Regions from separate parts of the Homo sapiens genome. Here region 2 is linked to region 1. The links come from fine-mapping of genetic effects on gene expression. A gene starts in region 1. The other region holds a variant in brackets. All regions are shown on one strand. Distances are between the middles of the regions.

The links.
Region 2: its variant is fine-mapped to the expression of OSTF1 in blood mononuclear cells (TOPMed, PIP above 0.99). The same link has a PIP of 0.9 or more in T cells, monocytes and whole blood.

The regions. Positions count from the first base shown.
Region 1 is chr9:75,087,324-75,090,050 of GRCh38, reverse strand. It overlaps OSTF1 (osteoclast stimulating factor 1), which reads right to left and starts at 1,537. Exons shown (of 10, transcript NM_012383.5): 1 at 1,325-1,537. The coding sequence starts at 1,358. It overlaps NMRK1 (nicotinamide riboside kinase 1), which reads left to right and starts at 1,896. Exons shown (of 9, transcript NM_017881.3): 1 at 1,896-2,043. RefSeq lists silencers at 1,147-1,236, 1,427-2,026.
Region 2 is chr9:75,148,641-75,151,657 of GRCh38, reverse strand. No RefSeq gene overlaps it. Among named protein-coding and RNA genes, the nearest start is that of OSTF1, 62 kb to the right of the region's middle. The variant G/A (reference allele first, on the strand shown) is at 1,738.

The sequences.
Region 1 (2,727 bases):
TTCCACATCTAATGCAATGCAGAACCCAACTCTAGCTGTGCCCCATCTTTGCCCAGGGCAGAGCCAGTCTCAGCAACTTCCTTCACACTCAGCCCACCAAGATGTCAGTCCTCAGTGAAGCACTATTCCACATACGTACGTACATGATTATCAAATAAAGGGACTTCATACTCCAACTGCAGGAACGCAAAGAAACAAAACTAGATAAGTATGAAAGCTATAGAGTTTAGGAAAATCAAGGAAAAAAGTAATCACTGAAACTCATCTCTTGCAAAGAAAGTTACTTCAAAATTTGACGTAAATGGATTAAATTTCAGCATTTCGCTATACCGAAATTACACTATGGGAAGAAAAAACCCAAGAATACATCGGAGCCATTTATCTTCCATTTCCTGTATTTCCCTTAATTACCTACCCAAATGAATGCACGTAAGAGTTGTTAAAGTATTGAAATACGTCAGTCCTTTCTAATTACCTACCCAAATGAATGAGCGGAACAGTATGTTACAACTTTTAATTAAAATACGTCAGTTTCTTTTACAATTATCTTATTTCTGCATATCACAGAAAATATTCTAAGAACAGAGCAAAAATGAACAAGGACAATCCGCCCAGAAAACTGCTTTGAGGAATTTAGTAATCTCAGCCCTCTCAGGTTTAGCACGCCAACGTCTTTGGGAGAGCAAAGGCAAAGGAGATGATAAAATGACACTTCCAAATAGCAACAGCTGAGATCACTGCCGCATCCTAGATTCTTTCCACCAGGAGCGCGAGTATAGGGTTTTTTTCTAAACGCTCTTCCCAAGATCCCGAGGTCAATTTCAAACGCTGCTCCACGCTTAAGTCCCGAGGGAGGCTCGCTCGCCCACCCCACCCTGCAGGGATTGCACTTCCCGTTCGCTCTGGCCGGTCAGGAACCCTAACTTGACAGTGACAAACACTGAGAAAAGAGGAAGTGGCTAAAGATCATTTCATGACATTTTTTAAAGGGAGATCAATGGCCCTGTCTTTCCGGAAAACTTCCATGGGACGTTGCCATCACACCCTCTGAAAGTTTCAGCGAATGACAACGTAGCAAAAGTGAGGGCTACTCCCCTTTAAATATATATATATATATTAATCCTCGAAATCCTCTTGCTATCAAAATCGATCCCTCCTCCGTAACAGCGAACGCAAAACTAAGAGCGCCCATCCCGGTGGGGCCGATCTCGGAAGCCAGGCTCGGGGCCGGGTGCGCGCCGGGTCCTCCCTGCCAAGCTGCAGAGGAGGCGCCGGCACCGCGGCGGTCGCAGGACCTGGCAAGCGCCTACCTTACCTCCCTCACCTGGTTTGACTGGTTTGGGTGGCGGCTTCGACATCTCGCTTCCTGGAGCTGCAAATCCTAAAGACCCCGCCGAAAAGCCCACCGCTTGCCCGCCACCTGGCACTCCGGGCACCCCAGTTCTTTTTGTCTGGCTTACAACCGTGCGCCTCCTAGGACCGGCGCCCACCCTTGGCTGCGGGAAGAGCGGACGCAGGCAGAGCGGCTCCGCCGAGTGCTCCGCCCCGCCCCGCGGCCGCCGGAGCAGTCCAGAGCGCGCGCCGGGCCGACGAGGAAGTGGACCCCGCCTAGCCGAGCGCTAATTGGCTCCCGGGCTGGCAGCTTCGCCGCAGCAGGAGCGCGGGCGGCGCGCACGGCGGCGGAACCAGCCGGAGCCGAGCGAGGGCGAAGCGGGCGTGCGCCAGTGCAGTGCCGCGGGCCGCGCGCGCTCCCGATAGGGAAGGGCCGGAGCTGCGCAGGGGCGCGCGGAAGAGGCCAAGCTAGCCGGAGCCCCGCCCCGCCCCGCCCCGCCCCAACGGGGGCTGGAACCCGGCGCCGAGAGTAGAGAAAAGGGGCCTCTGGTGACCGCCCCTACCTGGCATCCCTCTAACCCAGGAGGAGCGTGGGGAAAGGGGCTGTGGGCCTCTCGGGGAGCGAGCTGCGGGTAGCGGCGCACTGGGTACAGGCGCGCGCTTGGCTGTCGCCTCTGCCGCTGTGTTTGGGAGGACTCGAACTGGCGCCAGGTGAGTGCGTACCTGCTCGCCCCTGCCGCGCCGCGCCGCCTTGCTGGGGCCTGGAGGTGTTTCCAGAGGGTTTCTGTGCTGGAGCCCGGGACTTGGTTGCGCCCTGAAAGCCTTGCCTGGACTCTTGCCACCCTCACAGAGCTGATAGGTGGCCTGCCGAGGAGGACGTGTACTCATGGTGGCGTGGTGCTCTAGCGCCCCGGAATAATCCTGAAAATGGGAACGCTGCCTCCAAGAGACCGCGCAGCCTGGAGAAGTCGCCAGGGACAGGATCAGGACTTGATCCTCGCGGATCGATATGGTCTCATTCCTCTAGCGTTGGGGTGATGACCTACTGCCCGCCTGCTGCCTGTTACTGTAAGGCCTGCTAAGAATTTTTTTTTTTTTTACTTTTTTTAATGACTGAAAAGAAATAAAAAGAAATATAATACTTTGTGACACGTGAAAATTACATGAAATTACGATTTCAGTGTCCGTAAAATTTTACTGGAACACGGTCACGCTCATTTGCATCTGTGTTTTCTGTGGCCGCTTTCGCATTACCCAGCAGGGTTGAGTAGCAGCTGGCAAAGCCCAAAGCATTTCCTGTCTGGCACTTTACAGAAAAAGTTTTCCTACCCCTGATCTATCGGATTGAATCTTCGGTGGGAGGAAAGAACTGGAGCACACAAGGAAGCCAATGGC
Region 2 (3,017 bases), 61 kb before region 1:
TCACGCCTGTAATCCCAGCACTTTGGGAGGCCAAGGCGGGTGGATAACTTGAGGTCAGGAGTTCGAGACCAGCCTGACTAACATGGTGAAACCCTGTCTCTACTAAAAATACAAAACTTAGCCAGGCGTGATGGTGCACACCTGTAGTCCTGGCTACTCGGGAGGCTGAGGCAGGAGAATTGCTTGAACCTGGGAGGCGGAAGTTGCAGTGAGCTGAGATCGCATCACTGCAGTCCAGCCTAGCAACAGAATAAGACTCCATCTCAAAAAAAAAAAAAAAAAAAGAAGAAGAAAAAGAAAAACTCTACTACCACATATGAAGAAACCTAAATGACTGGAAGGCAACATCATTGTCCTCCACTCATTTTTAAAGTATTTTAGGAAATTCTGCTCTTCAATATTGGTGGTGAAACTGAAAAACGTGTTGACACACTCCTTTGTATAACACACATATCTGGTTTTAATGCAGACTTCCCTGTTCATGGTTATACCCAACATTAACTGAGCAACTGCTCAGTAGTAGAGTTTTTCAGGAACTAAGTCATTTGCATATATGATTTTATTTAATCCTTCTAACTCTAGGCAGTAGATACTACCACTTCCTCCACTGCACAGCTAGGGAATCTGGGTGTTTAGGTAACCTGTCGCAGGTCACTCAGCAGAATCAGGCTTGAATCCAGACAGTGTGATTCCAAAGCCCATACCCCTCACCACTTCTCGAAGCATTCTACTAATTTCTGTCAGAACTATGGGTCATTTAGAAAAGGTAACCATTTTTCCTTTGAGGCTCAGCCTCTTCACTCCTTGTCTATTCCTTCCACTTTCCTTCCTGCTTCCTGTCAGGCTGTCTAATGTATACCTTTGGATTTCCTCAGTGTTCTTTTCCGGGCACCGCGAGGAACCTGGCCTCCCTGTGGCTCCCAGTTGCCCACAGGGCTGAGCCTGCTGGGAAACCCAAGCCGCTGGCCACTGGCGACAGACACAGCAGCACTGCCTGGGAATTGTGAAGTTACTTACCTCCATGTACACATCGAGCTCCCAGACTCAGGTAAGACCACATCCCCTGACCCTTCCAAGGGATGCATTTATTTTCATGGTTACACAGAAGTGAGGAGCTCTCAGACTCTCTGAGAGAACTGCTGAACTTAGCAATGTAAACTCAAAGCAAAATGAATAGGTGCTGATCTAAGCTTTCCTTCTCTTATACTTACTCATACTCTAATGTGTACAGAGTAGGAAATTTTGGAAACTTGGGAGTAAAACCTGCTTCATTAAATATTTCTTTAGGGTTACTGGGAACTAAAAGTTTGGTGAAAATTTCTCTGGAAGCGCTTAGGGTCATTTTAAATAAATTATGAATTGATTAGCAGATATGCTGAATTTGTTAGATGCCTATATCAAGGGCTTCCGTTGGAAAGAAGCTGTCCTGTTTCTGCAGATTTTTCTGAGAGAATGTGAATGATGACATCTGACTGTTGCAGCAGGCAATAGCGCGTGGGTTCCCCAGACCCGTGTGTCCACCTTCAACCAGTTCCTTCACTTCTTCAAACCTCAGCGTCTCTGTAAAAAGTTGGGGCATTAACATTCCTCGCCTAAGGTTACTGCAAAGATCAAATGACATCATGTCTGTGAAAATGTCTCGCACAGGCACTGGAAGAGTAGACATTTCATAAATGGTAGTTTTATTTAATTTCATGTCATTTTAAGGGAGGGGCAGATGTAAAAGCTTGTTATTGA[G/A]AAATAAGGAAACAGAAGCCACAAATTTGTGGTCTGCAATTTTTCCTTCACATGAGAAAACTGTTCACCAAAGCTATATTTGCAAACAGGAATACCAGAATCTTTTACAATATTTCTCCCACTAAAACCTCAACTTTTAGTAATTGGACACTTCAAAGTTTGGCTATACAATCTTTTCCTGCAATATACATATTTACAATATAAAAATCAAGACAAAAAATACACAGTCTGAGTCAATAGGGAAGGCAGATAATCAGATGTAAATGTTAGGTTCCACAGCCTATCAGAAAAGAAATCATCATTTACAAAGATGATAAATATAGTGCTCACAATAAGAAAATTAGTAAATCAGAAACTCTACACAATAAAAAACATTTATGAAGAAGGCTTATGTGGAAAAATTACATTTCCATCTTTAAAATTATCTGCAAATTACCTAAAATTTCGTTTTCAGCATTATTTCCTTTTTTTTTTTTTTTTTTTTTTTTTGAGATGGAGTCTGTCTCCATTGCCCAGGCTGGAGTGCAATGGCGCAATCTTCGTTCACTGCAACCTCCGCCTCCCGGGTTCAAGCGATTCTCCTGCCTTAGCCTCCCAAGTAGTTGGGATTACAGGCACCCGCCACCATGCCCAGCTAGTTTTTTTTTTTTTTTTTTTTTTTCCTAGTAGAGACAGGGTTTCACCATGTTGGCCAGGCTGGTCTCAAACTCCTGACCTCAGGTGATCCTCCCGCCTCGGCCTCCCAAAGTGCTGGGATTACAGGCGTGAGCCACCGTGCCTGGCCTATTTCCAGTTTTTTTTTTTTAAGATTAATAAAATGGAGTCGCCATTGCTTTGTTCAACATTTCCCTTTGAGTAATAACATAATTAATCTACTGAAAAGAGGAGCCATGGGGGCTTATAAAGAAATGCTGTAATACATGTCAGCCCAACAACAACAAAATGTGCAACAGAACAGCCCAGAAAGAAAACTGAAATGGGAACCTCTGATAAGAATTTTTCTTTGCATGAGGCTCCTGGGCCTACAACTAAACAAGTATCGCACTGCCCAAGTAGCTGGAAGGCATTTCCTATTTAAAGGGTGCAATCACTAGAAAGGAGTTCAGGCCACAGTGACTGTCAGCAAGCTCAGATTACAGCAAAACCTCTGAAGTTATTTCCAAAACATAATCAGAGCTCTCCTCTGCACAGTCAGAGCAGTGGCAAATTCCTAGAACTGATTTTTGTTGCTGAGTTCAGCACTAAACAATCTCTGAGAAAGCTCAGATTAGCCAGGCTGA